Homo sapiens: one gene and its partners. The protein of the gene in region 1 purifies or fractionates together with the protein of each later gene. This does not show direct contact. Each region holds a gene or a part of one and is shown in the gene's direction. Other genes may lie near its edges.

The links.
Region 2: the proteins of MAP1S (region 1) and STK4 purify together in Homo sapiens (affinity purification with mass spectrometry; 3 studies listed by BioGRID and IntAct, with this or other methods). This does not show direct contact.
Region 3: the proteins of MAP1S (region 1) and STK3 purify together in Homo sapiens (affinity purification with mass spectrometry; 3 studies listed by BioGRID and IntAct, with this or other methods). This does not show direct contact.
Region 4: the proteins of MAP1S (region 1) and MAP1B purify together in Homo sapiens (affinity purification with mass spectrometry; 2 studies listed by BioGRID and IntAct, with this or other methods). This does not show direct contact.

What each region holds. Positions count from the first base shown.
Region 1 is NC_000019.10:17,728,269-17,735,693, forward strand, and holds the end of MAP1S (microtubule-associated protein 1S), read left to right. Parts: intron 1-4,924; coding exon 4,925-5,160; intron 5,161-5,998; exon of another isoform or gene 5,999-6,004; coding exon 6,005-6,160; 3' UTR 6,161-6,245; downstream 6,246-7,425. UniProt on the Homo sapiens protein: Microtubule-associated protein that mediates aggregation of mitochondria resulting in cell death and genomic destruction (MAGD). Plays a role in anchoring the microtubule organizing center to the centrosomes. Binds to DNA. Plays a role in apoptosis.
Region 2 is NC_000020.11:45,073,576-45,081,476, forward strand, and holds the end of STK4 (serine/threonine-protein kinase 4), read left to right. Parts: intron 1-1,442; coding exon 1,443-1,601; 3' UTR 1,602-6,446; downstream 6,447-7,901. UniProt on the Homo sapiens protein: Stress-activated, pro-apoptotic kinase which, following caspase-cleavage, enters the nucleus and induces chromatin condensation followed by internucleosomal DNA fragmentation.
Region 3 is NC_000008.11:98,452,880-98,459,326, reverse strand, and holds the end of STK3 (serine/threonine-protein kinase 3), read left to right. Parts: intron 1-2,033; coding exon of another isoform or gene 2,034-2,036; exon of another isoform or gene 2,037-3,088; coding exon of another isoform or gene 3,089-3,142; exon of another isoform or gene 3,143-3,326; coding exon 3,327-3,485; 3' UTR 3,486-4,694; downstream 4,695-6,447. UniProt on the Homo sapiens protein: Stress-activated, pro-apoptotic kinase which, following caspase-cleavage, enters the nucleus and induces chromatin condensation followed by internucleosomal DNA fragmentation.
Region 4 is NC_000005.10:72,100,807-72,110,488, forward strand, and holds the start of MAP1B (microtubule-associated protein 1B), read left to right. Parts: upstream 1-6,668; 5' UTR 6,669-6,725; coding exon 6,726-6,909; intron 6,910-7,118; exon of another isoform or gene 7,119-7,788; intron 7,789-7,968; exon of another isoform or gene 7,969-9,682. UniProt on the Homo sapiens protein: Facilitates tyrosination of alpha-tubulin in neuronal microtubules. Phosphorylated MAP1B is required for proper microtubule dynamics and plays a role in the cytoskeletal changes that accompany neuronal differentiation and neurite extension.

The sequences.
Region 1 (7,425 bases):
AAGAGATGGTCTCACTCTGTCTCTGAGCTGGAGTGCAGTGGTGTGGTCACAGCTCATTGCAGCCTTGAACAATGGGGCTCAAGCCACCCTCCCACCTCAGCCTCTCCAGTAGCTGGGACTACTGGCACCGCCACTACCCCTGCCTAATTTTAAAGTTTTTGGTAGAGATAGGGTCTTACTATGTTGCCTGGGCTGATTTCAAACTCCTGGCCTCAAGCTGTGTGCCCACCTCAGCCTCCCAAAGTGTTGGGATGACTGGCGTGAGCCACGGTGCCCTGCCAGTTCTGTTCTTTTTTTTTTTTTTGAGACAGAATTTCGTTCTTGTTGCCCAGGCAAGAATGCAATGGCACGATCTTGGCTGACTGCAACCTCTGACTCCCGGGTTCAAACAATTCTCCTGTCTCAGCCTCCCGAGTAGGTGGGATTACAGGTGCCTGCCACCACGCCTGGCTAATTTTTGTATTTTTAGTAGAGTTGGGGTTTCACCATGTTGGCCAGGCTGGTCTCGAACTCCGGACCTCAGGTGATCTGCCCACCTTGGCCTCCCAAAGTGCTGGGATTACAGGCATGAGCCACTGCACCCAGCCAAGTCCTCCTGTTCGTAATTACTTCGTGACCTCAGCCGTGCCCACCTCTCCGGGGCTCAGTTTCTCCTGTGAAATGGAAACTGACCTCAGTGTTGAAGCACTTGCCATTCTGAGGTGCCTGGACAGGTGAGCACGTATGCCAACTGTGGGTTTCTAGAAGCCACAATAAGTAAAATGAAACAGTTGAAAATTTAAATAGCGTATTTTATGTAACTGATTGGTTAGGAGGACCCGGCCTATGGTTGCACTCATAGCAGAGCAAAATCAGCAAAGAGAAAAGGCACATAGGGTGAAGTCCAAAGGAAACCAGGCAGAAGCTTCCAGAATCCTCTCCCAGTGGGGCTGCACACCACAGGCTTCATTTCTCCAGTAGCAAGTTGTAACAGTGTGTCCCTCATGGAAGCTCATTAGACACAGCATGCCCAGGTTTCCTATTGGGCCATTACATAGGCATCTTCTGCCTGGCACCCACACTCTAGACTCCCCAAAAAGGAGAAATCAGGTGTGTGGTCCAGTCCAGGCACAGGGAGCCCCTCTCAGACAGGGAATGGTGGGAACCCTCTGCCTAAGATCCAAATTCCCAGAGACCAGCCAAAGGCTCACATTTTAAGCAGGCCTTGCTGAGAGGAGGGTCTCTGGCCTGCTGTGCTGTTCTTTGTTTTTTTTCTGAGACAGAGTCTCACTCTGTCATCCAGGCTGGAGTGCAGTGGCGCAAACATGGCTCACTGCAGCCTCGACCTCCTGGGTTCAAGCAACCCTCCCACCTCAACCTCCCGAACAGGTGGGACCACAGACACGCACCATAACGGCCAGCTAATTTTTTTTTGAGATGGAGTCTTGCTCTGTCACCAGGCTGGAGTGCAGTGGTGCGATCTGAGCTCACTGCAACCTCTACCTCCCGGGGTCAAGCGATTCTCCTACCTCAGCCTCCCAAGTAGCTGAGATTACAGGCATGCGCAACCATGCCCAGCTAATTTTTGTATTTTTAGTAGAGATGGGGTTTCACCATGCTGGTCAGGCCGGTCTCGAACTCCTGGCCTCGTGATCTGCCCGCCTCGGCCTCCCAAAGTACTGGGATTACAGACGTGAGCCACTGTGCCCAGCCTACGCCCAGCTAATTTTAAAATTTTTCAGTAGCACTGGGGTCTCACTATGTTGCCCTGGCTGGTCTTGAACTCCTGAACTCAAGTGATCCTTTGGCCTCGGCCTCCCAAAGTGCTGGGATTATAGGCATAAGCCACCACGCCCGACTCAACGTTTAATTTTGGATGAACCGCCAGACTGTTTTCCACAGCAGCTGCTTGACGCTAGCCAGTCTAATGGGTGTGAGGTGGGATCTCATTGTGGTTTTGATTTCCATGTCCCTAATGATTAGTGATGTTGCATCTTTTCATATGCCTATTGGCCATTTGTCTGTCTTCTTTGGAGAAATGTCTATTCAATTCCTTTGCTCATTTTAAAATTTTGTTTTACTTTTTAGAGACAGGGTCTCGGTCTGTTACCCATGCTGGAGTGTAGTGCAAACACAGCTCATTATAGCCTCAACTTCCTGGGCTCAAGTGATCCTCCCAGCTCAGCCTCCCAAGTAGCTGGGACTACACAGGTGCATGCCATCGTGCCTGGCCAATTGTTTAATGTTTTGTAGAGATGGAGTCTCACTATGTTGCCCAGGCTGATCTTGAACTCCCAGCCTCAAGCGATTCTCTCGCCTTGGCCTCCCAAACTGTTGGGATTACAGGCATGAGCCACCATACCTAGCCCCCTTTGCCCATTTTTAAATTGAGTTGTTTTCCGTTGCTGAGTTTTAGGAGTTTTTTAAATCATTCTGGACATTAATCCTTTAGCAGATAAATGGCTTGCAAATATTTCCTCCCATTCTGTGAGCTGCCTTTTTATTCTTTTGATAGTGCCCTTTGATGCACAAAAGTTTTAAATTCTCATGAAGTCCATTTTGTCTATTTTTTTCTTTTGTTGTCTGCACTTTTGATGTCAGACCCAATAAATGATTGCCACATCGATTTTTTTTCTTTTTTCTTTTTCTTTTTTTTTTTTTTCAGATGAGTCTGGCTCTGTTGCCCAGGCTGCAGCATGGGAGCACTATCTTGGCTCACTGCAACCTCCGCCTCCCGGGTTCAAGCGATTCTCCTGCCTCAGCCTTCCTGAGTAGCTGCGATTACAGGCACCCACCACCACACCTGGCTAATTTTTTTTGTGTTTTTAGTAGACACGGGGTTTCACCACGTTGGCCAGGCTGGTTTCAAACTCCTGACCTCAAGTGATCTGCCCGCCTCGGCCTCCCAGAGTACTAAGATTATAGATGTGAGTCACCATGCCTGGTCAAATCCAACAGTGAGAAGCTTCTACCCCATGTTTTCTTCCAGGAGTTTTAAGTTTTCCATTTCACATTTAGGTCCATTTGGAGGTAATTTTTGTATGTGGTGAAAAGATCCAGTGTCATTCTCTTGCATGTGGAAGCCCAGCTTTCCCAGCACCATTTGTTGAAAAGACTATCCTTTCCCCATTGAATGTTTGGAACGCTTGTTGAAGATCATTTCAGCATACATGTGATGATTTATTTCCGGGCCTCTATTGTATTCCATTGGTCTATATGTCTGTCTTTATGCCAGTGCCACGCTGTTTTGATTACTGTAGCTTTGTAGTAAGTTTTGAAATCTGGAAGTGTGAGTCCTCTATCTTGATTCTTCTATTTCATGATTGTTTAATCTCCTTTTCACATTGTTCATTGTTCATGTATAGAAATTCAACTGTGTTTTGCCTGTGGACTTTGTACCTTGCTTCTTTGCTGAATTCGTTTATTATTATTTTTTGAGATGGAGTCTCACTCTGTCGCCCAGGCTGGAGTGCAGTGGCACAATCTCAGCTCACTGCAACCTCCACTTCCTGGGTTCAAGCAGTTCTCCTGCCTCTGCCTCCCGAGTAGCTGGGATTACAGGCACCTGCCACCACGCCCAGCTAATTTTTGTATTTTTAGTAAGAGACAGGGTTTCGCCATGTTGGCTAGGCTGGTCTTGAACTCCTGACCTCAAGTGATCTGCCTGCCTCAGCCTCCCAAAGTGCTGGGATTACAGGCGTGAGCCACTGCACCCCCAGGCCTGATTTTTTACATTATTGTTCATAAAGTCTGTTGAACTGGCATTTTCTTGTAGAATTAAATATCTGTGCCTGGCTTTGGTATTAAGACAATTCTGGTCTTATAAAATGAGTTAGGAAGTGTTCCTTCCTCTTCAGTTCCTCGGAAAAGTTTGAGAAAGGCTGATGTTAGTTCTCTAAATGTTTAGTGGCTTCCCCAGGGCTTTTCTTTGTTGGGAGGTCGTAAGTTACTGATTCATTCTCCTTGCTAGCTACAGGTATGTGCTGATTTTCTATTTTTGTGATTGTGTCTTGGTAGTTTTTGTGTTTCTAGGAATGTGTCCATTTCGGCTGAGGGTATGCATTTGTTGGTATACAGACGGGGTAGTACTCTTACCCCCTGAGCTGGGCAGCAGCTGTGATTGTAAGATGCAGGGTCTGGCAGGCTTCTTGTGCCCGAGACCCAGCCGTATCCTTTCATTTCATTGATCATTCACTTGCCCAGGGCTGGTGGCCTTGTCCCCTTTGGCCCTAAGGTCAGGGTTTGGACAAGGCCCCCAGAGCTGCTGTCTCATCCGCATCCAGCATCCCGCAGTGATCTTGGGCCCGCCTCTCAAGGCTCTGTCCACCCACCCTGGCTCCCCATCACCCTTGGGGCAGGGATTCTGTCTGTCTTGGTCACAGCCCTGTTTCAGGGCCTGGTGCCCATGAGGTTCTGTTAAATGCCCCTTGAGCAAGTGAACCAGACAAATGCTGCAGAAGCAGCAGATGGTCCAGGCACTGGCTGCTTTCAGGGCTCAAACTCTTAAACCCTCTTCCAGGAAGCATTCCCTGATTGCCACCCACTCGCCCCCCAGCCCTGGGGATGTCTATGTCCAGGGACTGGCTGGGGATGAGTCAGGCTCTAGGCACAAAGGGGTGGCCGGTGGTGTTTGTAGAGTGAGTGAAGAGTCACTGGAGTCAAGGCGTGGTGACATGCACCTGTAGTCCCATCTACTTGGAAGGCTGAGGCAGGAGGATCACTTGAGCCCAGGAGTTTGTGACGAGCCTGGGCAGCATAGCGAGACCCCATTTCTTAAAATAAGATTCACTGGAGTCATGAGCGCACCAGGCCTCCCCAGAAAACTCTGAGTTCAGGCCTCCTGCTGAGGAGGGAGCTGCTCTGAGTGGTGCAGGTCGAACTTGGAGCCTCGGCCCCTCCCCAGCCCCAGGAGCTCATCCCTGCCTCCCCATCCCCCCGCCCGCAGGGTCAGCCAGCAGCCGGCCCGGGGTGTCAGCCACCCCACCCAAGTCCCCGGTCTACCTGGACCTGGCCTACCTGCCCAGCGGGAGCAGCGCCCACCTGGTGGATGAGGAGTTCTTCCAGCGCGTGCGCGCGCTCTGCTACGTCATCAGTGGCCAGGACCAGCGCAAGGAGGAAGGCATGCGGGCCGTCCTGGACGCGCTACTGGCCAGCAAGCAGCATTGGGACCGTGACCTGCAGGTGCGTGTCACCCCAGGGCCTCTGGTGGTAAGTGTAGTTAGCACAGATGGGTAAAACCACCCTCGACCCTCAGAGACTAAGCTGTGTTCCCCAGGCCACACGGGAATGGGGGCGAATGTGGGAGTCTCACATGGCTCAGCCCTTAGGGGTCTCTTCGGACTCTGATTCTGTCGTGTCACTGTTGTCATTGGCTGTGCTGGAAGCCTGGGGGAGGACGCAGGGCCTCGTGAAGCCTCATGGTTCTATCCCTTCCCCAGACACCTTGTCACTTAGCCATTGTTCCGCTGTGAGAATTAGTCGGGATGGAATAGGTGGGCTGGGTGGTATCTGTGCGGCTGAGAACCCTCCCCCATGGCTGCATGAAGCTGAGAGACTGAAACCAAGCCCTGCAGGGCGAGGTGCATGTGGGCAGAGGGAGGACCGCCTCACACCGCGGCCCCTGCCCTCTCATAGCTGCTAGGCTGGCTTCAAAGGAGTGTCCCTGTAGGGTGCACGACCCAGGAAAAGGCCCAGAGGTAGGAAAGAGGTTGGTGTGTTCAAGGAGCAGGGGGAGATCCAAGTGAGTAGAGAGGGGTCTCAGGCCAAGGAAGGCCTTGCAGAGGAGGAGCTCCGTCTCCTGTGTGCTGAGAAGGCTCTTTGGGTGCTGGTTGGGAGGAACAGGGACCTCACAGACGGGCTGACCACCCATTGCAGACCTCAAGGTGGAGCACACAAGATCAGGGAAAAGCCAGGAGGGGTCTCAAATGCCAGGAAAGGAAGGCGACTTGGGCCCAGGCCAGAAGGGCAGGGGGCACCCCCCTCACTGGTGGTCCACTCTCCCCACACACCCCCCCTCCACCTGCAGGTGACCCTGATCCCCACTTTCGACTCGGTGGCCATGCATACGTGGTACGCAGAGACGCACGCCCGGCACCAGGCGCTGGGCATCACGGTGTTGGGCAGCAACAGCATGGTGTCCATGCAGGATGACGCCTTCCCGGCCTGCAAGGTGGAGTTCTAGCCCCATCGCCGACACGCCCCCCACTCAGCCCAGCCCGCCTGTCCCTAGATTCAGCCACATCAGAAATAAACTGTGACTACACTTGGCTGTGGCCTCTCTTCTTTCTGTGATGGGAGACTTGGCATGTACCTCCTGGTCCTGCGGGTGGGGACAGCTTCCATGGAATCCCCAGTGACCCTGCGGTCAGGCCCACTCTGGCCTCCATGTCGCAGATGGGAGAAATGCAGGCTTCGCTGGGCCTGGTTTGGGGAAGGAAGTGCCTCTCAGAGTTAATGACCACTGACCGGTGGAGCTCCTGACTATGGCCTCCATCCCGACTCAGCAACTGTGAGGGGCCCAAGTTATAGGCGCGAAGTAGCTACCTGACTATCTGTCACACAAACCAGTTGGTGGCAGGGGGAGATTGAATACCTGTCTCTGCTCCAAAGCCATCAAACAAAAGCTATCCTGCTGTCCCTAGAGGAGATGGATGCTTATTCCAGAAAGTCTTACTCTGCAGGAAGGATTTACAGAGGAATCTGAAACCCAGAGATTACAGAATATCCACTTCTGACTAATGCACCCTGACCCCTCTCTGCAGAAATACAAGCACTTAGGTTTACTATTAGATACAATGTCATCTGTACTGGGTTGAATGGCAGCCAGCCCCCAAAACACATTCAACACCTGACCCCTGACACCTGTGAATGTGATGTTATTTTGAAAAAGGATCTTTGCAGATACAGTTTTATTATTTTTTGAGATGGAGTCTTGCTCTGTCACCCACGCTGGAGTGCAGTGGGGCGATCTTGGCTCACTGCAACCCCCGCCTCCTAGATTCAAGCGATTCTTGTGCCTCAGCCTCTCTAGTAGCTGGGATTACAGGCACACGCCACCACGCCCGGCTAATTTTTGTATTTTTAGTAGAGACGGGGTTTCACCAGGTTGGCCAGGCTGGTCTCGAACTCCTGACCTCAGATGATCCACCCGCCTCGGTCTCCCGAAGTGCTGGATTACAGGTGTGAGCCACCATATGCCTGGCCCTTCACAGGGTCTTACGGTCACAGGGTAGGTGATCAGGAAGGGCAGGTGGAGCAGAGGAGCCATGCCTGTGCCTGCCACCTCCTGTCCAATGCCTGCTAGCAATGCCAAGATCGCTAAGCTCAGCCAGCCACCTCCCACTTCCACCTACCCACCCTCCACACCTCTGCAGCGGAAACTTAACAGGGATGGGAGTCCTGGGAGAAAGGCCCCAGCCTAGGCGAGTTGACACAGCAGTGCAAAGC
Region 2 (7,901 bases), on another chromosome or scaffold:
ACAGACCTCTTGTAAGACTTTGAGTTCTTGAAACACTGTACCTATTAAACTGGTTGTGAGCACACAGAATAAAGTATCACCACCCACTGTGGATAATGTCAGCATTCATTCCCACCCCTGACAGCCAATATTGGCCAGGCTTGGAATCACTGAACACACATGGCAGCAGAGTCCCTTGCCCCATAGCTGCAGACACAGGTTGAACACTGGTGTATCCCTGGGCTTTTATGAAGAGAGAGGCTTATAACACCCATTGCCATCTTTACACACACAGTGCAGCAGGTACTGTGCTGAGAACTTTACAGCCGTGATCTTATTTAATTCTTACAATACATGTGATGAGACACTGCTGTCTGACTTCTGTAGATGGGGAAGGCCTGGAGAGATTGGTAACTTGACAGAGTCTCATGGCATCTGCAACAGGCAGAACCACATTTTAAACAAAGGTTGAGTTACTTCTAAAACCTGTGCTTTGCTAGTCTTCTGTTCTGCAACACTGGTTAAGAGCATAGACTCTAGAGCCATGCTGCCTGGGTTTGAGTCTTGATTCTGCCACTTACTAGTTGGGAGACATTGGGCAGGTTACTTAGCTACCCTCCTCCTTGGGCTGTTCATCTGTAACATAGGGATAATAATGTCCTTGTAGCATGGGTTGCTCTGAGGATTAAAGGAATCCATATATGTAAAGCACTCAGTGTCTGGTGCATAGAAAACACTAAATGCCAGCCATTATTATTAATTTATATATCAACTCATTGTTTTTCTTTGGATGATAGAAACTTAATCTCAGAAGTTTGAGGTTTTTCTAACTACCCACCCTTACCCCAACCCCTGCCAAGGGTTGCGTCTGTATTCCCAAGGGGCTTAGACTGTTACCTGGTATATAGTAGCCTCAAGTAAATGCTGGTGATGATAATAGGGCAGTGCCAAGACATTGGGGGTGTGGGAAGGCAGGGTTAGGGGATGGCATCTGCGCCTCATCAGCATCGATCCTCCATGGTGTCGTATCCTGAAAGTGGGAAAGGCGCTGTCCAGATAGACGCTTATCTCGTAGACAGAACAAGAACGGGGAGGCAACCATTATTTCACATACAGCAAGTTACTGTTATTTTAATGCCCTAACAATGAATCTATATTTAATTAACTTAAAAGATAGGGGAGGTGAGAGTATTATTCACTAAGTTCTTGGTCAAGGCACATTAAATCAAAGCGGTTAGCACTTAGATCTCTTCCAGGGATAAATTATCTCAGACAAGCTTCAAGGTATGCCATGCTTTGGAATGAATTGTCACTTTCCAACCACCACCACTCAACCTGTGATCTGACCACAGTGTCTTCCTCCTGTCTCCCTTCCCTCTGGGTGCCTGGGAAGGCTGGGCTTCTGCACTGTTCTGCCACTGACTTAAGCTTTGTCGTGACTATACCTTCCACTTCTCTTCTAGCTTAAGAGTTGGACAGTGGAGGACCTTCAGAAGAGGCTCTTGGCCCTGGACCCCATGATGGAGCAGGAGATTGAAGAGATCCGGCAGAAGTACCAGTCCAAGCGGCAGCCCATCCTGGATGCCATAGAGGCTAAGAAGAGACGGCAACAAAACTTCTGAGCAAGGCCAGGCTGTGAGGGCCCCAGCTCCACCCAGGCTTTGGGTGAATTCTGGATGGCTTGCCTCATGTTTGTTAGCCAGCACTTCTGCTCTGTCGTCTCTCCACAGCACCTTTGTGAACTCAGGAATGTGCGCCAGTGGGAAGGGCTCTCTTGACAGTCAGCGTGCCATCTTGATGTGTGTATGTACATTGGTCAGGTATATTATCTCAAAGGATTTATATTGGCGCTTTTAACTCAGAGTTTTAAACCCCAGGAACAGAGACTCCTAGTTGAGTGATAGCTGGGAAAGTTTTACATTGTCTGTTTTTCTTCTCCCAATAGCTTTCAATTGTTCTTTCTGGAAGACTTTTAAAAAAATATAAATATGCATATATATATATAAATTATAAATAGATTCCCCACGCAGTGTGGTGGCATCTCTGTACAGGTACAGTTTTAAACGGTTTGCCTCTTTTCTGTAAGATTATGGTACTGTGGAACATGAGGGCAGAGGACACCGGGAGGCTGTTAGGGGGTCACTGAATCCCAGGAGCCAACCTCCCCCTTTGCAGGGCTGCATTTAAAAATTAGGTTTGGGACAGTTCTTGTACCGTGGTTTCAGCCTTGTGTGGTCATCACTGGCTTCTGGAGCTATTGGTGATGTCCAAGGGAAAGCTTTGAGAGTTTATGTTTACTCTTTGAGTCCCAGGAGAAGCCTGGCACCCTCTTTGCAAATTGGCCTTTGCTCTTTCAATGCCTTTCATCCATCTCCACTCTCTCAACTGCCTAAAGTCACAGCACAGATACTGCCCAGTGCCTTAAGAGGAGACATGATCTCTACCAGGGACTCTCAGCAAACACGGGACTGTGTTCAGTCCACAAAGGAAAAGCGTTTTTGAAGCTCTCATTGTTCATGTAAAAATCATACACGTGGCATGTTGCTCCACATTCCTTACACACAGGGGTAGAGGGGATTGCTTTTGTGACCCACGTTCAAATATGTGACTGTTTTCTTTTCTCTTTTACTGCTAAGCAGCCTGGAAAGGATAAATGAATATTAGACTAAGATTTGTTTTCCAGGAGGCTCAATCTGAACACACAGAATGTCAGAGCTGGAAGGGACTATAGAGATCATCTGATCTGATCCTCTTGTACGGATGATCGCAAAACTGAGGTGTAGAGAGGGGAATGGCCAAAATCACAAAGCAAGTTAGCGTTAAGAGCTGAGACTAGAATTCAGGGTCCTCACTCCCAGGCCACCGAACCATGCAGCCCCTTCTTTGGGGGAAGAGACCTGTGTCAGTCTTGGTTAATTGTTCCAGGGAACCTTGCTAACAGAAACTTGCTCTTGCCTTGGCTCTTCAGTAGATGACCTGGCTGTAAAGAGATTCCCTGGACGAGCCAGATCATTCAGTTTCAGCGAGTCCTTGAGCTCCACAACATCTACCAGATATAGCAGACAAGCACCCATGGAGGCAGGTTTCGGGCCTGAAGCAGATCAGAGGGCTTTGCAAAAGACAGCATAGAGCCATCTTCCTGCAACTTTACCTCTTTCCCTCAGATGGGGAGCCATGACTGGGTTGCACCTCAGGATACTGTAATTTGACTCCATAATTGCTTTTGCTCCTGAAACCTGGGAATCAATGGAAAGGCAGGGAATGTGCCTCTTCTGTGGCCAGATTCTGTTATTTGCAATTAAAGCAAGTTTTTAAAAAATGCAAGAGGCAGTTGTTAGTCTTCAGGGCTTGGCAACTGAAATAGCTATGTGGCGGATACGGAAAACAGAGGACAATTTGAGGATCTTGCTGGAATAATAAATGACAGCTACCATTTGTTGAGCACCTATTATATATCAGGCACTGAGCTGGGTAGGCTCTAAACTTCACAATAACCCTGTGACTTAACTACTTTATCTCCATTTTGTAGTTGAAGAAATAAGTTCAGAGAGAAAGATTCCTTCCCAAGGTCATGCAGCTAGTAAATGATAGAATCAGGATTCATAGCATCACTATAGGGGGTCAATATTTACACAAAAAAGGAAAGTCACAAGCCTGTTTAAAATGAAGTGACCACCTTTTCTTGCATAGACTAAATAACTCGAACTGGCATTTTTAGGTTGGAAAGACAGCTGAATTAGTAGTTAAGTCTGATAGCCAAGTAAGTTTTAAAAACCAAAGCATCCAGGATGCACACCCCTGCACCATTTGCTGTGCGAATTAATAGTTCTGTCTCTCTCTCTCTTTCTTTTTTCTTTTTATTCTTTGAGATGGATTTTCGCTCTTGTCGCCCAGGCTGGAGTACAATGGCACGATCTTGGCTCACTGCAACCTCCGCCTCCCGGGTTCAAGCGATTCTTCTGCTGGGATTACAGCATATGCCACCATGCCCAGATTATTTTTTTGTATTTGTAGTAGAGACGGGGTTTCACCATGTCAGTCAGGCTGGTCTTGAACTCCTGACCTCAGGTGATCCACCCGCCTCAGCCTCCCACACTGCTGGGATTACAGGCATGAGCCACCGCTCCTGGCCTCTCTTTCTTTTTTAAACAAAGAACTTTGCACTTGGCCAGAGAGGAGGAGAAAGCCCATTTTCTCCCTTCCTAAGCTAGATCCAAATAAAAGAAAGTTCAGTTTTCCCCCATAACTATTCTTGGGTCATGAACTTTGATCTGGAGTTTGTTTTGTTTCAGGAATGTGTGCACCCAGCTTGCTGATCCAACAAAGTCTATTGCTTACCAGTCTAGCTTGATGAAGCCTTTTGGCCAGAAGTCAATTTGTTTTGGATCAGAGAAATTTCCTGACAAGGTATATTTGTTTTCTAGTGACAGAAAGGCAAAGGAACAAGTCCTAGTTGTTGTTGTTGTTGTTGAATACTAAATTTAAGATATGTCAGCTTGCTTTCAATGAGCCTTGGGCTTCTGTTATTGCTTGAGCATTTGGAACTCGAGCTTCCAGAGAAATTTGAGGTCCTCGCTTGTTCTCTGCCTTCAAGAAACAATGACCTGATTCTGTCTTTAAAAAAAAAAATCTCAGAATTCTTTTTTTGTTTGTGTTTTTTTTTTTTTTTGAGACAGAGTCTCACTCTGTTGCCCAGGCTGGAGTGCAGTGGCGCCATCTCGGCTCACTGCAACCTCCGCCTCCCAGGTTCAAGCAATTCTCCTGCCTCAGCCTCCCAGGTAGCTGCCACTACAGGTGCTGCACCACCACGCCCGGCTAATTTTTGTATTTTTAGTAGAGACAGGGTTTCACCATATTAGCCAGGTGGGTCTTGAACTCCTGACCTTGTGATCCACCCGCCTCGGCCTCCCAAAGTGCTGGGATTACAGGCGTGAGCCACCTTGCCTGGCCAAAAATCTCAGAATTCTTTAAGACTGTTTTAATTGCTCCATCAGTAATTTTGAAGCACTTTCCTTTTTTTTTTTTTTTCCCCTTTTTGTCCCTTTCCCCAAGCCACCAATTGGATGGATGAATGTTTGACGGGGAAGAGGAAGGGTAGGAGGATGCATGGATGAGTGGATGAGTGGATCGATGGATGTATTGATAAATAGATAGAACCAGTCATCTGAAGCAACTTAAGAATTGTAGCCTTGACTCCTTGAGACTGTAGATTTCGATCCAGGAAACATTTATTTAGCACCTGCCAGATGCCAGAAATTTATACCATTTAAAACTCAGTAAGTCTTTTAAATATCAGGAAGGAGAGAAGCGACATCATGATACATCCTATGGGTATTAAAAAGCCAATAGAATATTATGAATAATTTTATGCTAATAAATTTAACAACTTCAACATCATAAACAAATTCCTTGAAAAATAAAAAGTACCAAAATTCATTCAAGAAGAAATAGATACCAGCCTGAGCAACATGGCAAAATCCCATCTCTACAAAACATCAAAAAAAAAAAAAATTAGTCGGGCATGGTGGTGCACACCTGTAATCCCAGCTTGTCAGGAGGCTGAAGTGGGAGGATCACCTGAGCCCAGGGAGGTCAAGGATGCAGTGAGCCATGGTCTCACCACTGCACTCTAGCCTGGGTGACAGAATGAGACCCCGTCTCAAAAAAAAAGAAGAAGTAGATAATCTGAATAGCCCTATATCTATAGAAACTTAATAGTGCTGGGAGATATAGGTATTATTATCCTCATTTTACAGATGTGAAAATTGAGGCTCAGAGAAGTAAAGTCTATTGCTCAAGGTCATGTGGCTAGAATATGGCAGAGCCATGATTCAGATCCAGGTCTTCTGATTCTTATTCCAGTGTCCTTTCTAGCATACCATGTTGCCTCTAAAGATTGCAGCTCCTTATTTACTAGAAAATTGTTCCTGCCCAATCTACATCTCCACCTCACCCCATCTTTTCTTAAGCACTATGTTTGTGTTTTTATCAGTATTATATTCATTGTCTTTGGAATACATGTTCTTGTTTGTGTTTGGAAAAAAAATCTCTTTTACCAGCTTGCACTCGGACCAACTTGGAAAAAAAAAAGCTTAAATGTTTTTGCTATGTACAGTTTAAAAATGTGAAGTTTGTAGCTTTAACTTTTTGTAAGAAAATCTAATAACACTGGCTTAAGTGCTGACTTGAAATGCTATTTTGTAAGGTTTGGATGTAAGTAATCAATTGAGGTCAGCAGTTTGTATGAGACATAGCTTCCTCCATTGCCCCCACTCCTTTTTTCTTTTTTAAGTTTGAGATGCTTCCTGTGTTTTTATGTTAGAATTGTTGTTCTCCTTCTTTTCTTCTTCCTATACCTCATCACGTTTGTTTTAAATAAACTGTCCTTTGGACCACAAACCCTTATTAACGAGAACCTCAATATATAGCCTGGATAATGGTGTTGTGAACAATCTTTGTGACATTGACTCAGTGGTGTGTTTATTCTAAGATCCAAAGCTGGGGAGAGGTTGGTAAACTTTTGTTGGGCTTCTATTATGTGCCAGGGTACTGAGCTAGTTATCAGGAATATAATAAAGATGAACCAGATACAGTTTTTGCAGGGCATTTGGGGAGTTAGCCAAGCACAAAAACACACAACATTGAACATACCATGGTAGAAGAAGGTACAGGGCCTGTGGATACACAGAAGAGGGAGTGACGGTTCTGCTGGGATGTCCAAGGAAACTCTTCTAGAGGAGACAATATACCTTGAAACTTTAAAAATGAAGAAGAGATGGCTAGATTAATAAAGAGTAGGAAGTGAGGGAGAGAAGACATCCTGGACAGAAGAGCCCGCCTGTATAAAGCCTCTAGTGTGAGATGATCACCTTGGAATCCTTCATCCTCATCTGCTGCTGCACGAAGCCAGGCCAGACGTGGCCCAGCATTCAGAGGTGGAACAGCAGGTTCCTGCCCTGGTGTGGCCCATTCTTATCCAGGAATAGTTCTCCAGCCTGACCCTAGGTTTTTTTTTCAGCCTTAAAAGTTGACCCCACGGCAGAGAGGGAATAGAGTTACATTGAAAAGTAAGTGTAGTTCTCTTGAGTGAAATTGCTCTACAGTATTTAATAGAATAGTTCCACAGTCTGTGTATATAACTGTCATGTTATTCTGTGGGCCTTTCTTGGAGTGGGGTGATAAGTGCGTTTATTGTTCCCTAACTTACTCACCTCACTCCTTGAAATATTTAGTGTACCTTCCTTCCTGTAGCCAGGGTTGATGACAGATGTTCCTTATTGATCACACTGAGAACCTATGGCCAGATGAAGGAAAGAAGGAAGGATGAAGTAAGTTTATATTTATTAAGCACTTATTATCTGCCAGGCACAATGCAGAGCCGTTTAGATGACTTCATTTGTCTTCTCACACACACTCTTAGGTAAATGATAGTGTACCCTTTCTATAGACATATGGACTTTTACAGTGTGCAGTACTGCCCACCAGGGGGTGTTTTGGAAATGTATGAGAGTGTTTTTGTGGTGATAGTGATTGAGGAGCCTTACCAGCATTTAATGGGCAGGGGCAGGTTTGCTAGATGCTCTGCAGTGCATTCTGGGACAGTCCTGCATAACAAACATCTGTCCGGTGTCCAACACAACATTCAGATGTTCCACTGGTTATTAATTTTGGTGAAAATTTTGTTTATAAACGTGATACTAAACCAAAGTTCATTTACATGTAAACACAAAGTACTTTTTATATGGTTTTACTGTTTTGTTTTTTTTAAGAATGAACTATGAAGAATGGAGAGACACTTGTAGTTTGTTTTGTTTGGACCTTTACTAAGAGTTGTTCTCCATTTCAGAAAACCACATCATCAGTGACAGCGATGCTTGTGATTTTTGAGTCACTCACTCAAGATTGGTTTAGATCTGTAGCTG
Region 3 (6,447 bases), on another chromosome or scaffold:
TTGCTGCTTAGAAATTTATTCCCCCAGATACCCTATCATCTCTTTCAAGTTCAAAGTTTCACAGATCTCTAGGGCAGGGGCAAAATGCCACCAGTCCCTTTGCTAAAGCATAGCAAGAGTGATCTTTGCTCCAGTTGCCAGTGAGTTTCTCATGTTCGTCTGAGACCACTTCAGCCACGGCTTCATTGTCCATATCACTAACAGCATTTTGGCCAAAACCATTCAACAAGTCTCTAGGAAGTTCCAAACTTTCCCACATCTTCTTAACTTCTTCTGAGCCCTCCAAACTATTCCAACCTCTGCCCATTACCCAGTTCCAAAGTTGCTTCCACATTTCAAGTATCTTTATAGCAGCGCCCCACTACCTCAGTGCCAGTTAACTGTGTTAGTCCATTTTCACACTACTATAAAGAAATACCCAAGACTGGGTAATTTACAAAGGAAAGAGGTGTATTGATTCACAGTTCCATGTGACTGGGGAGGCCTCAGGAAATTTACAATCATGGTGGAAGGTGAAGGTGAAGCAAGCCTGGACCTTCTCACGTGGTGAGAGGGGAGAGCAGAGTGAGATTGAAGAAGGAAGGGCCCCTTATAAAACCATCAGATATTGTGAGAACTCACTCACTATCACTAGAACAGCATGGAGGGAAACTGCCCCCATGATCCAATCACCTCCCACCAGGTGTCTCCCTAGACACATGGGGATTATGAGGATTACAATTCATGATGAGATTTGGGTGGGGACACAGCCAAACCATATCAGTAAAGTCTTAGGTTACAAAATCAGTGGTACAAATCAGTAGCACTATTATATACCAACAGTGACCAAGCTGAGAATCAAATCAAGAACTCAACCCCTTTTACAATAGCTGTAAAATAATTAATAATAATAATAGTAATAGCAATAAATTACCTAGGAATATACTTAGCCAAGAAGGTAAAAGATCCCTACAGGGAGAACTACAAAACACTGTTGAAAGAAATCATGCATGACACAAATGGAAATACATCCCATGCTCATGGATTGGAAGAATCAATATTATGAAAAAGACCTTACTGCCCAAAGCAGTCTACAGATTCAGTGCATTTCCTATCAAAATACCAACATCATTTTTCACAAAATTAGAAAAAAATCCTAAAAGTCACATAGAACCAAAAAAGAGCATATGTAAATACATGTGTGTGTGCACATGTGTGTGTGTGTGTGTGTGTATATGTGTGTGTATGTGATATTGAGACAAAGTTTTATCACTTAAAGAACTAAGATTTAGGTACTTCATTAATTTACTTACATGAACACCTAATTCCTTAATAATGTTAGATAATGTTTCTCTAATATCACAGACCTGTTTTTCACAAATTTTACGCATTGATAATATAAAAATCTGTTAAAGGAAGAAAATTTTTCTTCTAAGTAGCTTCTTTTTCTGAGTTCAGTCTATTACTGCAATACAATATTTATAAACCTATTGGCAGTTTGCCCCAGTAAAAGTAGTACAAGATATTTACAGGAATATCTTAATTCAGAATTAAAGTAATGATAATTGTTTGCTTTATATAATATGTTAGTTCTTCTGATCTTAGAGTAACCCACTCCTTTGGGTCATATATTCTTATTCATATTTATCTATCTACGTTTACGTCATGTTATTTGCAGTATAGTAGGATAGTTTCTTGGTGTATGTACAGTCTCTAAAGTCTAAGTATTTTTTGGAATATCTAGGGACATGAAACTCATGCATAAAAATCAATTATAAAATAGTACATGATTTAGAATCAAATACTAAATTGTGTTGTTTAAATTATGAGTGTTACATAGAAATTTAGAAATGGGAAAGATTAACATGGGCTGAAATAGAGATGATGTTGAAGAACACAGAAGTGGAACTGGATCCTACATAGACATAGTTGGGCATGTCTTTCTTGGGAAATGTGGTTGTGTGGTATACATTGGCCTTTCAATGTGGCCATTACCGATGTGTACAGTTCAAAGTTTGGAGTTTCCCTGTTTGTCTTATTCTGTATCTCCACAGTGATTTGAACAGCACTGAGCATGTAACAGATGCAAGATCACTACTTGGATTAAAAATCAATGAAGAAAGTGTATAATACTACATATGATATATAAATGTATGTTTTATGGCATAATATTAAAAGCTAGGTTCTTTCATGACATATGACTACAAAATAACAGGGCTGATTATTAATATACATACCAGAACTTCTTATGCACCGAAGTGAGTGGCATTCACCTTCAAAGTCATCATCATGGAAGCCTGCATACTCTTCTCCATAACACTGTCATTTCTCAAAATATTTTTGGAACTCCTTTTTTGAATTTCCTTCAGAGAGTCTATGACTCATTCTTTTCAGTATCCTCAGAGTCTTTTTCAGCTAAGAGTGAATTTGGTTTTTGGAAGCAGAAGTCACGATAGGGCCAGGGATGGCGAGTAAAAGGATCTGCTGAGAAATGCTACTTTGGATGACTATAAGTAATGAGTATTTTTCCTAGCTTGACTCATAAAATAACCAAAGGCAATTATCTTCTTAAAACAAAAAGTAAGTTGCAAGTTTTATCATTTTAAAACCAAGCCTGAGCTGGGTGCAGTGGCACATCCCAGCTACTGAGGAGGTCAAGGCAGGAGGATCTCTTGAGCCCAGAAGTTTGAGACCTTGTGTCAAAAAAAATAAGAAGAAGAAGAAGAAGAAAAGAAAACCAAATCTGGATTACTCTTACATAACTGTCCTACTCCAGAATTGATCATGGCTTCCTGCTTTTGGGGCCCCACCAGGCCTATTCAGCCTTACTTCCCGCCCCCTACCACAGTCATCTTCTTTATTAAGCATTTAGTAAAATGGAGGATAGAATGGTTAATTTAACCTTTATTCAGTCTTGTCACATTCTTGAGTGATCTCTGCAAGTGTTCATGATTATTGTAGCACTCAGTAGCTGGCAAAGATGTAAAAAGTTAGAGTGAATATACCTGGAACATATTCTGAAAATCTGTTTGTTGGCAGTGGTGGATTTGTCTTTGTACCTTTTTACAAATTCCATCAGCGTATTTTTCTCATTTGCCCTTTATTAAAGGCAGAGGATCGGATTGCTTCATTGCAGATTACTGGAGGTTCTTGCAAGATATGACCTCTGAGTTCTTCAAGGAAGAAATTCCTGTTTTAATTGTTGAACTATACTTCAAAGATGATGTAAAGAATTTGCTGAAATATTTATGTTAAAACTCATTAGACATTAAAGTCTAATTTCATTGTATTGATTGTGGATAATGTGGATAATTTCATTGTATTGGTATCTTTCTTTCTGTATCTAGTTGAAAAATCTAAGTTTAGAAGAACTACAGATGCGGTTAAAAGCACTGGACCCCATGATGGAACGGGAGATAGAAGAACTTCGTCAGAGATACACTGCGAAAAGACAGCCCATTCTGGATGCGATGGATGCAAAGAAAAGAAGGCAGCAAAACTTTTGAGTCTAATTTCCTCTCTGTTTTTAACTATTCTGGAGACCAAGAAACCACTAGGAATTGAAGGAATATTTGGATATTTTTAATCCTAAGATTTTGCCCTACAATTAGGCAGAGGTCAAAAAGTGACAATGGTACATGCCCAGGTAAATTCCCAAAAGGCAGAATTGACAGTTGTATCTGCTGTGCATTCACTCTAAGATGAGGAGAACAAAAGAAGTGTATTCTCTTGTTCTGTCAGCTGCATACCAGTAATAAAACTGTTATGAAATGGATTTTCAAGGTCTCTAAACCTTGAAAATCCAAAGCTATTGTTGCATTGTACAGCACTGAAGGGCTTTATGTTACAATATTCTTTATTCCTATCTAGTATACTAGGCTATTTATTGTATCCCCTTAGGTAAACTTATTTATTTATGCTATTTTGCTTTGTTTCATTTTTTAAGGACAAGATCAGGATAGCTTTGGTGAAGGTAGGGTCATATTAATATGATGATAATGTGCAACCAATTTATACTTTCTGCAGGGAGCTATGGGGTACATTCCTTGATTTCCAGGATAGTTTTTCAAATAGGAAAGCAATAATGGCAGTAGTTCTCAAATGGGCTAGGCCTTTTTTATATTGAAGCAATAATTCCATTTTTACCCTTTGAAATTTTGTTTTTTTGATTTTTGATGTTTGGTACAAATAGAACTATATATATTTAGGTAAAATAGATCTATCGTGTTTAAAACCAAAGAAATCAATGGAACCCTTGCACAAAAAAGTGTGATAAATATTTTTAAATAAAAACTTAATACAAATGTAATTTGTTAATATTGTTTCATGTTTTATGTGTAGATCTAATAGCTGAACTGATTCAAACTGTAATAAGCTCATCAATTTCATTTCTATGAAAATGTGCTCTGTTGTCACAGGATGTTTCTGTTGATTTTATTCATTTCCTGGGAATTGGTAAACATCATGTTCCTGATGATAACCCAGTAGCAAAAACATTTGTACTGAGTGGTACAAGCCTTGGGGACTGAAAAAAAAAAGATTAAAACCATTAAAAAGAAACTCATTTTTACGCTGAATGAACATTTATATGATTGCATTGGGACCAGTCATTTCCTAAGCTACATATGGCCATCTTGACAGTGTTTTTTCTTTTGTGTGTTTAATTATTATGTGTAAATCATAAAGACAAATAAATTTCACTGTGCCACCCAGCATATTTCGTTTCTGTATCTTTGTTAAAACTCATGACCTGGACTCTGCATTTTCCAAGCAAGGGACGTATATTAGTTAGGACAGGCTAGATTATGCAGTGCTGACAACCCTCACCCTTCAGCGGCTTCACATAATACAGGTTATTCCTCACTCTTGCTCCAGGCCCACCCCAGTTTGGCAGGGCGCCCTGCTCCTATCATCCACACCCAGGGACCTGCTGACAGGGCCTCAACCATCTGAGATATCTGTGGTCACCACAATAAGGAGAAGGGGAGCTGGAGAGTTTCATACTAGCTCCAGCCAGTAGTGATACATGTCTGGTTGGCCACAACCCAGTATTCAGAATTAGTCACATGGACACTCCTAACTTCGAGGGAGTCAGGAAGAGTAGCATCACCACGTAGCTGGAGGGGAGAGAACAGGAAAAGCTGATGAGTTCACTAATGTCTGTCACAGAAGGTATATTGTCTCTGGAAAGCTTCCATTCCTTTTTAAAAATGGTATTTGTACCCTAGGTAATGCCTCAAAGTGTCATTTGTCTCTACCCTGTTGAGCCCTTACAAATAATAATAAATTGTATAATTGGATACAAATTATAAGATTATAAAAAGAACGATAAGTATGAAACATACAAAGATTATTAAAAAATGAAGAACTGAATTTACAATATATGCTTCAGCAAATCTATACTGGAGTCTGTTGGGGACAGTTGTGTGAGTTGATCAACTGAAACACCCTGCCCTTTTTTCTTTTCCTAATTATTTTTCTTTTTACTAACCTGTTCGATATCTTGCCTGATTTGATGGAATCAAATGACTGATTTGCTGTCATCCAAGCAAAACCACCTACATGACATGGACAAGAAACCTATGAAGATGATTTCTCTTCAGTTTGCTAAATTAGAAAATGTATGCAAATTAACTCAGCGAGGCCTGTTAACCACTCTTAATTCAATCTCGAGAGTCCTCCTTTTAATATGTCAAGTGTTCCACTCACATTGCAATTTTCTGCAGTTAGACTTTATATCCTATTATATCTATGTCTATTTAAGTGTATGTACACAAATACACACATATATTTAAGAGAATTAAGAGGAATGGGCATTGTTTTATTTTAGAGCCCTAGGAAACTCCAAAACATTTTAGGATGACCTACTTTTAAATTTTTCCTATCTTCTTACTCTTTGCCCCTACCAGTCAAAGGAATTTAAGATATGTTTTGAAGAATCACAAGCCATGAAAGAAATCTGCCTGGGTGCAGTGGCTCACACCTGTAATCCCAGCACTTTGGGAGGCCGAGGCAGGCAGATCACAAGGTCAGGAGTTCGAGACCAGCCTGACTAATATGGTGAAACCCCATCTCTACTGAAAATACAAAAATTAGCTGGGCGTGGTGGCACATGCCCGTAATCCCAGCTACTCAGGAGGCTGAGGCAGGAGAATCACTTGAACCCAGGAGGCAGAAGGTTGCAGTGGGCCAAGATCACACCACTGCGCTCCAGCCTGGGTGACAGAGCGAGACTCTGTCTCGAAAAAAAAAAAAAAAAAAAAAAAACAAGAAAGAAATCAAGTCTAGGCCAGGCTTGGTGGCTCATGCCTGTAATCCCAGCACTTTGGGAGGCTGAGGCCAGCAGATCACTTGAGGTCAAGAGTTCAAGACCAGCCTGACCAACATGGTGAAACCCTGTCTCTACTAAAAATACAAAAATTAGCTGATCGTGGTAGCAGGCGCCTGTAATCCCAGCTACTTGGGAGG
Region 4 (9,682 bases), on another chromosome or scaffold:
CTTCATTTCCTTTATTTGCTTTAAATTCAATAGCATCAGTGAAGGTACCATATAGGGGAGGTCATAGACTTTGAAATATGACATAGCAGAGTTCTTTTCACAAGTTTTCAACTTACTATCTTTGTGATTTGGAGGAATTGTCTAACTTTTCTCCATGTCAGTTTTTCATCTGTCAAACAGCAATAATAATAACTAATGGCAAAAAAGAAATCACAATGACATTAGAAAATGTTATGAAATGAATGATAATGACAATAAAGACACAACACATCAAAATGTGTACAGGGCAGCTAAAGCAGGAGTTAGAAATATTTAGCCTTAAATGTATTTATCAGAAAAGAAGGAAAACTGACAATTAATTACTTAAGCTTCTCAAGCAGCTACAATAGGAAGTAAGATAAAACCCAAAGAAATTAGGAGCAAAACAGCATGGATAAAAACAGCTTCAATGAAAATATATATACACATACATAAAATAGAAAACTATCAATAATGTCAAATGTAGGTTTTTGTAAAGATTAACAAAATTGATAAACCCCTAGCTGGACTGATCAAGAAAAAAACAAAGAAAATACAAATTATCGAGATCAGAAATGAGAAAGAGACATCAATACAGACTTTAAGCCATCAAAAATATAAATAATACCAGTGGGAATTCACTGAAGTACTTTAAGCACCTAGCACACTACCATGGCTCATAGAAGCCATTCATTTAGTCATTGAATATGCTTTGACTGAGCATATGCCCTATGCTGAGCAAGAGGAATGCTAAGGTATATGGGTGGCTGGGTGGGTGTGAAAAGGGTGTGTGGGGGTGGGGATAGACATGTTCTTTGCTCCTGTGGAGCATAGAGTTCAACTAGTCTTTTCTTTATAAATTACCCAGTCTGTGGTAATCTGTTACAGCAACAGAAAATGGACAAAAGTAGTGCTCTCATCAGGAGGAAAAGCAAGGGAAAGCCTGTGTTGGAGGGAAGGATGGTTTGGCACAAAGTCATTGTGGCTGATGCTGGAAAGTAAGGGCAAGTGGAGGGGCCAGATGAAGCTGCTGAGATAAATGGGGACCAGCTTGTAGGTGACACTGAGAAGTCTGGTCTTTATTCTAAAATGGGGAGCCATTTGTGTTTTAAGTGGAGATGGGGCAACAAAACCAGATCAGAAAAGATCATTCTCCATATTGTGTGAAGCATGGATTGGGTGAGTCATTGTGGATATACAGATGCCAGTAAGGTGACTATTGAGGTTGCATGGGAAAAAAAAATAGCTAGACCTACTGTTTACAATATAAATTAAACTGGAAATAGCTCAAATGTTCACCAACAATGGACTGGTTGAGTAAATTATAGTAAATAAACATAATGGGTTACTATGCAGCTATAAATAAAAATGAGGAATATTAACATATATTATTGTAGCGTTATAGCCGGGATATAGTGTTTGATGAAATAAGCAAAGTGGAGAAAATTGTATGTATATGCTGCTACTTGCATTTTTAAAGTGAAAGGCTAAATCAAGGTAAAAAATTGTTACTCACAGGAAGAGACAGGGAGAAAGCTGGAGGGGACAGGGATAGAGGCTAAAGTTCTCCAAATACAAATTGTTTTGTAGATTTCACCTTGGAACCATGTAAATATTTTACATTACTATAAAGCAAAATTAAATTGTAAAAATCAATTCATAAAAACTGAAAACAAAATGAAACAAATGAACATAACTATGCACTGAGTTAGTGGCACGATCATATATAACAGAATTAATTACACTTTAAAACTATATAGCTTAGGCTGGGCACGGTGGCTCACACCTATAATCCCAGCACTTTGGTAGGCTGAGGCGGGCAGATCATCTGAGGTCAGGAGTTTGAGACCAGCCTGGCCAACATGGCGAAACCCCATCTCTACTAAAGGTACAAAAATTAGCCAGGCATGGTGGTGGGTGCCTGTAATCCCAGCTACTGAGAAGGCTGAGGCAGGAGAATCGCTTGAACCTGGGAGGCAGAGGTTGCAGTGAGCCGAGATGGCGCCACTGCACTCCAGCCTGGGCAACAAGAGTGAGAATCGGTCTCAAAAAAAAAAAAAAAAAAAAAACAAAAACAAAAAAAACAACCAACCAACCAAACAAACAAACAAACAAAAAAACTATATACCTTAAAATGTTTTTAGTAATCACATTGTTGGCAAAAGTGTTGCATTCGTATCTAAAACTACCATGAGGGTAATTTGTATATATTGTGGAACAAGAAAAATGAGAAACTATCTGCTGTTCTAATTCTGTCACCTTGGAGTCTTTGAAAACTGGAATTCTAGGCATAGGACAAAGGAAATACAGATGCAAGATAAAACGTTAGGCAAAATCCCTGTAGTCCCGATTCTGAGTTAGAGGTATAAGTATGAACTCATACTTGAAAAACAATTTATTTCATATTTCTGTCCACTGAAAATATCTAGAAACAATGATCAAAATAGTAGTAGCACCTGGTATACAGGGGTCTCCAAATACCATTACCCACGTAAGGAACTTGGATTCCATAGAGAAACGGCTCATTCCAGGTTCTGAGGCCAGATATGTGCAAGGTAAGCTAGGGATACCTTACCATACTACTGGCCAAAGATGAAAAAATGAAAGCATCAATATGAATAATGTAAGTTATATTTGTAATGATACAAAAAATTAGTCACCTTTAGAGAATGATTTGGAATAAATTAATTATTTTGAAAATCAGTAAATAAAGAGAAAAAATCATTTGTTTATCCTTCTTTTCCTGTACATACCGTACCTCAGGGTAATCAACTGACAGGATAACGCTTCTCCTAACAGAAGTCTTCTAGCTGTCAAATAAATAATAACAAAATTAGAATATTATCATTTTTTCAATCCATAGTGAAATAATGGATCTAGGTAATGATCATCAATAGCTGCTAAAATCACAGAATGAGGGTTAACTAGTCTTTAGGTGCCTTCTGATGGAAGATCACAATATTACCTATGAAGTATACATGTAAAAAATATCAAATCTGCATCTGATCAAGACTTTAGTTCTCTCAGAAAATTCAGAAGATAGAAGAACATGTTAAATAACACAACAGGTGATGCAATCGGCAAAATTTATGCTTTGTGAAACTCTGCTGAACAATGTTGCCACTATTCAACAGAAAATTACAAGGAAAAAAATAGCAGGATTACATAGATCAAAGGAGTTTAAGACTGATGAATCAGTTGAAATATATAGACATTATTTCAATCTTGATTTAAAGAAGCAAACTATAAAAATCTATGGATTGGGGATAATGGGTATGTGGGTGTTACTTACATTATACTCTCTCTGTTTGAAATTTTCCATAGTAAAATGTTAAACAATAACAGCCAAAAACAACTAACCCCATACCAAAAACAACTAATCCCTATTAAGTGCTCATTATATGCAAGGCACTGTTTTAAGTAATTTGCATATTTAAACTGTCCTCCTGTCCATGAGGTCGGTACTCATCTCTACTATACAAATGAGAAAACCAAGGTATAGAGTGGTTAAGCACCTTGCTTAAGGCCACACAGCTAATAAATTATGGTATTAGGATTCAAAACCAGGCAGTCTGACTCCAGAACCCATTTTCTAACCGGTACACTAGTACCTATCACAATGATGCTAGCTTGGACTAGGTTGGTGATAATGGAGAAACGTGGATGGATTGAAGAGATACTGAAGGTGAAATTGACCAGACTCCATGCTGGATTGCACACGAGGCTAAGGGTCAGGGGAGAGTCCAAAATATTTGTGAGGTTTTGGTTTGCATCATGGGATACATGGTGTTATGGTTCATTGAAATAACAAGAATGAGAGAGGATCCCGTTTAGAGGTAAAAGATGATTTGGGTTTGGAGCATGTCAAGATTCTGGTGCCTTTGGTATATCCAGGTGATGTCAGTTGAGCAGCTGGCAATATTGGTGCTCTTATATGTTAGTTTTCCCCCTTTTTCCTCCTTAGAACTGTATACATTTTCTTGGGATGAAGAGGGGAAGGGGCTACTTTTCTAGTATTGAAGTATAATAATGTAATATTCTGTTCTTGTTTCAGAGGTGTTGTAGCAGTATCACTTGCACATTTTATAAGACTGCTTTTGCTCCATTGTCTTAGTAACTGGGAGAAAACAGGTCAATGAATCAACCATCCCTTGATTGCTTACTATGCCCAGCCACTGTATTAGGTGCTTACACATTCTATCATTTCCTTCTTTCTTACAGTTACTTTAACAGTTATAAAGATGTTCTTCTTCTCATTAAATAAGGAGATGGAAGATCAAAAAGAGTAAGTCACTTGCCAAAGTTACCGAGCTGTAAAGTAGTATTCTGCATCCCTAGTCTGTGTTCTCCCATTATGCCTCTATTTTTCAAAGTGTGGGTGATGACTTAGGTGGTCACGGTCATGGTGTTTAATTGCACAGACACACACAGTAAGAAAGCGCTCTGTTATAATTTTCATCCAATCTTCTGTTGCAACATGGAGAACAACTCAGTTAGGTGTTAGTATCTCTTTAATACCTCTCTAACACTTGGCCAATCTCTGTTTTCAACCAAGAAAGGAGAGCCTTGGACTCAGAGTCTTGAGCAAATCATAACAGTATGTAGCAGGAATTTGATCACATCTTATCTTCATTGTGTATATTTTTAGGGATACTTTCTATTAATAAGTGATATTAGTGTTTCCATTTATACAGCAACATAGAATTGCATTTAAAAATAAATTTAAGTAAAAGAAATAAACTGCATAAAAGAAAACTATTACATACATAAAAGTAACAATGGTTCAAAGAAAGGAAAACCAAACACAAACTAGATGAGGCTGGAATCCAACGGATGACCTTTAGAAAACAGTGCTCTTCACCATATTTCCTGCCCCTCACCCCAGTTATGGGCTTTGGTGCTGGCCTTACTTCTTGAACAGCAATTGAATATCTTAACCAAAATATTATCTGGAAACACTTCATCTAGTTACTGGTGAATGCAGCTAGTTGGAAACACTTCATCTAATTACTGGTGAATGCAACTCTCTAGTGATCCTGTCACAGATCCCAAATACTGCGGGCCAGACGGTATTTTCATTCTGCATTGATCAGATTGACATGTTGGATGGAACCCCCCAGCCCTTGGCTGCCCAGCATGTCTCCCATGCCAGGGTGTCAGGAAAGATATAAGAGCAAAGAGTACATGACCAATAAGTCATGGCAGCTAACACCTAAGACACTGGGTTATTTTGGAAATCTTAAGAATATCTAGGTGATTATCTATCTATCTATCTATCTATCTATCTATCTATCTATCTATCATCTATATTTTACTAACAGGCATTCTAGTATTAAAGCTATGTTGACTAATTTCCATCTATTCCTCTTCCTTAAAGCTCGAATTCCCCAGTCTTCTATGATACCATGTTTGCACATTTTGCTCTTTCCTCACCCTCCTCCCCTTTTCTGGGACAGAAGCTATATTCAGTATGTTTGTGAGAAACGGTTGTAAATAGGCTGCCTTAAAAAAAAAAACAAAAAAACAAAAACAAAAAACACATTTTTTAGTTCTTCTAAACACAAACAAAGGCAATAAAAATTCCCAATGCTACAGGTATTTTAAAAGACATCATTGTCACGAGGTAATTTTGCTTGTGTGTTCCCCAAGGAACTGAAAAGTACATTATAGTCACTGTAACCCTGCTGAGTAGAGACAGTATCTTCTCTTTATTCTTTGTTATTACTGATACTATCTGTTCAGCACATTAAGGAAAGAAATTGGTATCTAATATAATACATCTGCATTTCTCTCATTTCCCATGAGCACCACAAAGCCAGTACTTTTTCATCCTTGGCCCTGCCAGAGTAGAATCCAAGGCCTGAACAATAGTAGGCTTAAGTTTTGCATTTTTGATGTATTCTTTAAGTGAAGGTGGTAAATATTGATATTGGTAAATATCAGTAAATTCGTCTTCTTAAAGCCACAAGGTCAAAGAAAAGACAGGTTCCGTCTTCCTAGGCGGGGTACCCACAGCCCCGCATCTGCCCACTGTGGCTATCCCAGTTCCTGAGAACCTGGCTACATCATACACAGCACACAAGGCAGAGGCCTGACTAGTGCAACTCCAACAAGAGAAAAGACCCCCACTCCGAAAATGGAAACTCATCCCATTCCCATGCACAGACAGGGTGAGGGTGAGGAGTGGGCAGTGGGTGTGTACGTGGTGGGTGGTGTAGGTTGAGAGCGTCTTCCCCCTTCACGGCTGCAGCAGGAGCTCAGCGGGCGCCCCAGCCCCTTGGCTCGCGGCCCTGCCCCGACCATTGTCCGCACACCTCGTCCCTCCAGCTTCCGGGCCGCGGGCGAGATGATTTGCTGCAGATGACATCAGCCCCGGGCCAACGGCTGGAAGAGCGGAGGCAGCCACCGCGTGAGGATGTGCCGGGTGGTCCTTTCCTCCTCCTCTTCCTCCTCCTCCCGGCTCCCTGCCTAGTCTCCATATAAAAGCGGCGCCGCCTCCCCGCCCTCTCTCACTCCCCGCTCCTCTCCGCCGCGCACTCTCCGCGGCGCTGGGAGAGGGCGGAGGGGGAGGCGGCGCGCGGCGCCAGAGGAGGGGGGACGCAGGGGGCGGAGCGGAGACAGTACCTTCGGAGATAATCCTTTCTCCTGCCGCAGTGGAGAGGAGCGGCCGGAGCGAGACACTTCGCCGAGGCACAGCAGCCGGCAGGATGGCGACCGTGGTGGTGGAAGCCACCGAGCCGGAGCCGTCCGGCAGCATCGCCAACCCGGCGGCGTCCACCTCGCCTAGCCTGTCGCACCGCTTCCTTGACAGCAAGTTCTACTTGCTGGTGGTCGTCGGCGAGATCGTGACCGAGGAGCACCTGCGGCGTGCCATCGGCAACATCGAGCTCGGTAAGTGGCCCCGCGCCCCCAGAGACGCGCGCTGGGAGACGCGCAAACACGACCCCACCCAGGGCGCGACGGTCACTGCGCTCCTCCCGCGCGCCCCGCACCCATGCCTCTCCTCGTCACCTCTCATACTTGGTCCAGACCCTTTCTGGGCTAATTAAGAATAATCCGAATTATTAGATATGAGACCCAGAGGGAGAGTCTCCAATAACCTTGAGGGATCTGTCACCACGCTGAGTCCGCAGCCTGTGCTGAGTTGGCCACCGCCTCTCCCGCTAAGTGAAATGCAGGTGTCAGGGGAGCAGAGGCCACAATAAAGCCGCAACCGCAGGAGGCAGAAGGGTGGGGGAGACCTGATGCAACCACTCCTTTCAGTCCTCTTCTGGCCTCAGGAAAAGGCTGGGACCCCCACCACCGCAGACCTGGGGCCGAAGCCCATGTGCCAGGGCCCGCGTGGGATTCATCCTCACCACGGCTACCTCAGCCCCTGAGAAACGCCTTTTCTGATTTCAAACCTCCCGATCCTTTCTTTCCTCAGAATGACTAGGCTAGTCCTAGGGCCACGCCCGCTCCCCCCGCCCCCCCCTCCCCGGGGAGATGCTGGGATGCAGAACCGCCTGCGCTTCGCCACCAGACAGAGCCCGCCTCGCTACCGCCCTTGGGGCCTTGGCTGCAGCTCTCAGAAAGGACAATGGGACCCCAAGTTGCGGGGTGGGGCTGCTGCTTTTAGAAGTCCCAGCCTCGGGAGTGGTAGCTTGAAGGGGGTCGGTGAGGGAGACGTCAGCGGGTAGGGTCAGCTCCTCGCCCGGTGCTCGCACCAGTGGCGCGCTCTGCGGAGGCCGAATAGCGGTACGCCGGGGACCCTGGGCGGGGCCGTGAGGGTCCGGCGGGCACAGCCTCGGGCGCACAGAGAGACCGCCCCCAGCCCCACCCGAGCTGCCGCAGTGCCTCCGGACCGCCCGCCACACCTGCCCCCCCACACTGCGGCGCCCCCGTCGGGCACGGCTGGCTGGGCTTGCGCTCCGCCCGGGCCTCGGGCTGGCGGGGGCCGCGCGCCCCCACCTCTCAGTTTGCCTGGCTTTGTTGCCCTGGGAGTCCCTGGGTGGGCAGCTCTGGTCTCTGCCTTTCCCTTTATCCCTGGCGTCCCGGCCCTCCCCTCGCTCCTGACAGAGGTCGCCGGGTCCCTCCGCAGCCCCAGCCCGCGCTCTATTCTCCTGGGGTGGTGCTGAAGCGTTTCTCCGGGAGACACCGGTTGGTGGGCGTGGTGCAGTCCGCACTGCGGTCTCTACGGCAGCCCGAGGCGGACAAAGGGCGTTCACGCAGCCCTCGTTCCCCACTCCCCCTCCCCAATAAAAGACGAAAGAAAAACCTTGTTTTAGATGAAAAAATAAATGCTTGTCATCTGCCTCTGCAGTTGGAAACGGCCACTTGTCCCCAGAACAAAAGGCTGCAGGGTGGGGACTGGAGTTGCAGACCTGGTTCTTTTGTTTAACTTTAAAGCACTTGATTTTCCCTTTTAGCTTAAAAAAAAAAAAGAAAAAAAATGTGAGCAGAAAGTCATAGTATTTTATTCCAAAAAATTCAAGAACAAGAGATATTTCAGTAGTGAAATGTCTTATTTGAGCATCTCAATAACCCTTCATTTTCAGACTATATAGGCCTTTGGTCTAATCTGTTCTAATTTAGTTTATTTGCACAATTTTCTCCTGGAAAAATTTTACACATACTGACTTTGGGTGTGGCTATTGTGGGAATCAATGACTTTGGATTTTTTTCTTTAAAAAATTATTTGTAAGTAGCATTTCTGGGAAATAGGAATATATTAGGAGGTGCTTTTCTATCTACAAAATCTTCATAACCATTCGATGTGGTGGTGCTAGGAGAGGGATCATCAACCCCGTTTTAGAGCTGGGGGCCCAGAGAGGCAGGAAGGGTAAGAGAACCGGCTCAAGGTCACAGCACTCATAAGTGACAGAAGTACCAGTACTGCAGCGTCACTCGTTTTCTGACCCTGTCATGATGTTAGTGCAGGGTTGGCTAACATCCTATGATGGGAGGAAGGTTTCAGTACAACAGTTTTCAGGGCTTGCCTTTGTATGGCCATCCACTTGTGGGCAGCGCCCCATGCTGGGAGATGGTTCAGCAATCACCTTCGGATCGTAATTATCTTCCTGCTTTGTTACTCATCTGATCATCCTTTCAGCGCCCTATTCCTCAGAGGGTTTATACAAGCTGCATCTATTTATGGAGAAAACAGACGCATCCACGTACTGCTATGAAGAAGGGCTCCCTGCCTTTACTCGTTTTTACACTACTAGCACTTAGTGACAAAATTCAGATTTGTCTTCTTGACATTAATTTTTTAAAAAATTCGGTTGAAGTATTATATAGAGAGGAAAGGGCACAAATCAAAGATGAGCAGCTCAACGAATTTTCACAAAACGGACACGCCTGGGTTACCCAGATCAAGAAACAGACATTACTGGAACCCCAGAAGCCCCCTTGTGTTCCCTTTGCAATAGACATCATGGCTTCCTGATTTTTTAATTCCCTAATTTGGTCAGGTTTTTGCATGGAACTCCGAAATGACTGTATTGATCCCATTAAGAATCAACCAAGTGAGTGAGCAGAGCCGTTTCTTTACACACCGTAGCAGATGCTGCTTTTCCTCTGAAGATGGCTCTCCTGGGTTCTGGGGTCTTGGCTGCAGCTCAAGATGCAGGCCCTTCCAGCGCTAAGTGAAAATCCTGCTCCCATAGCTTTTCAGACAGTCTGA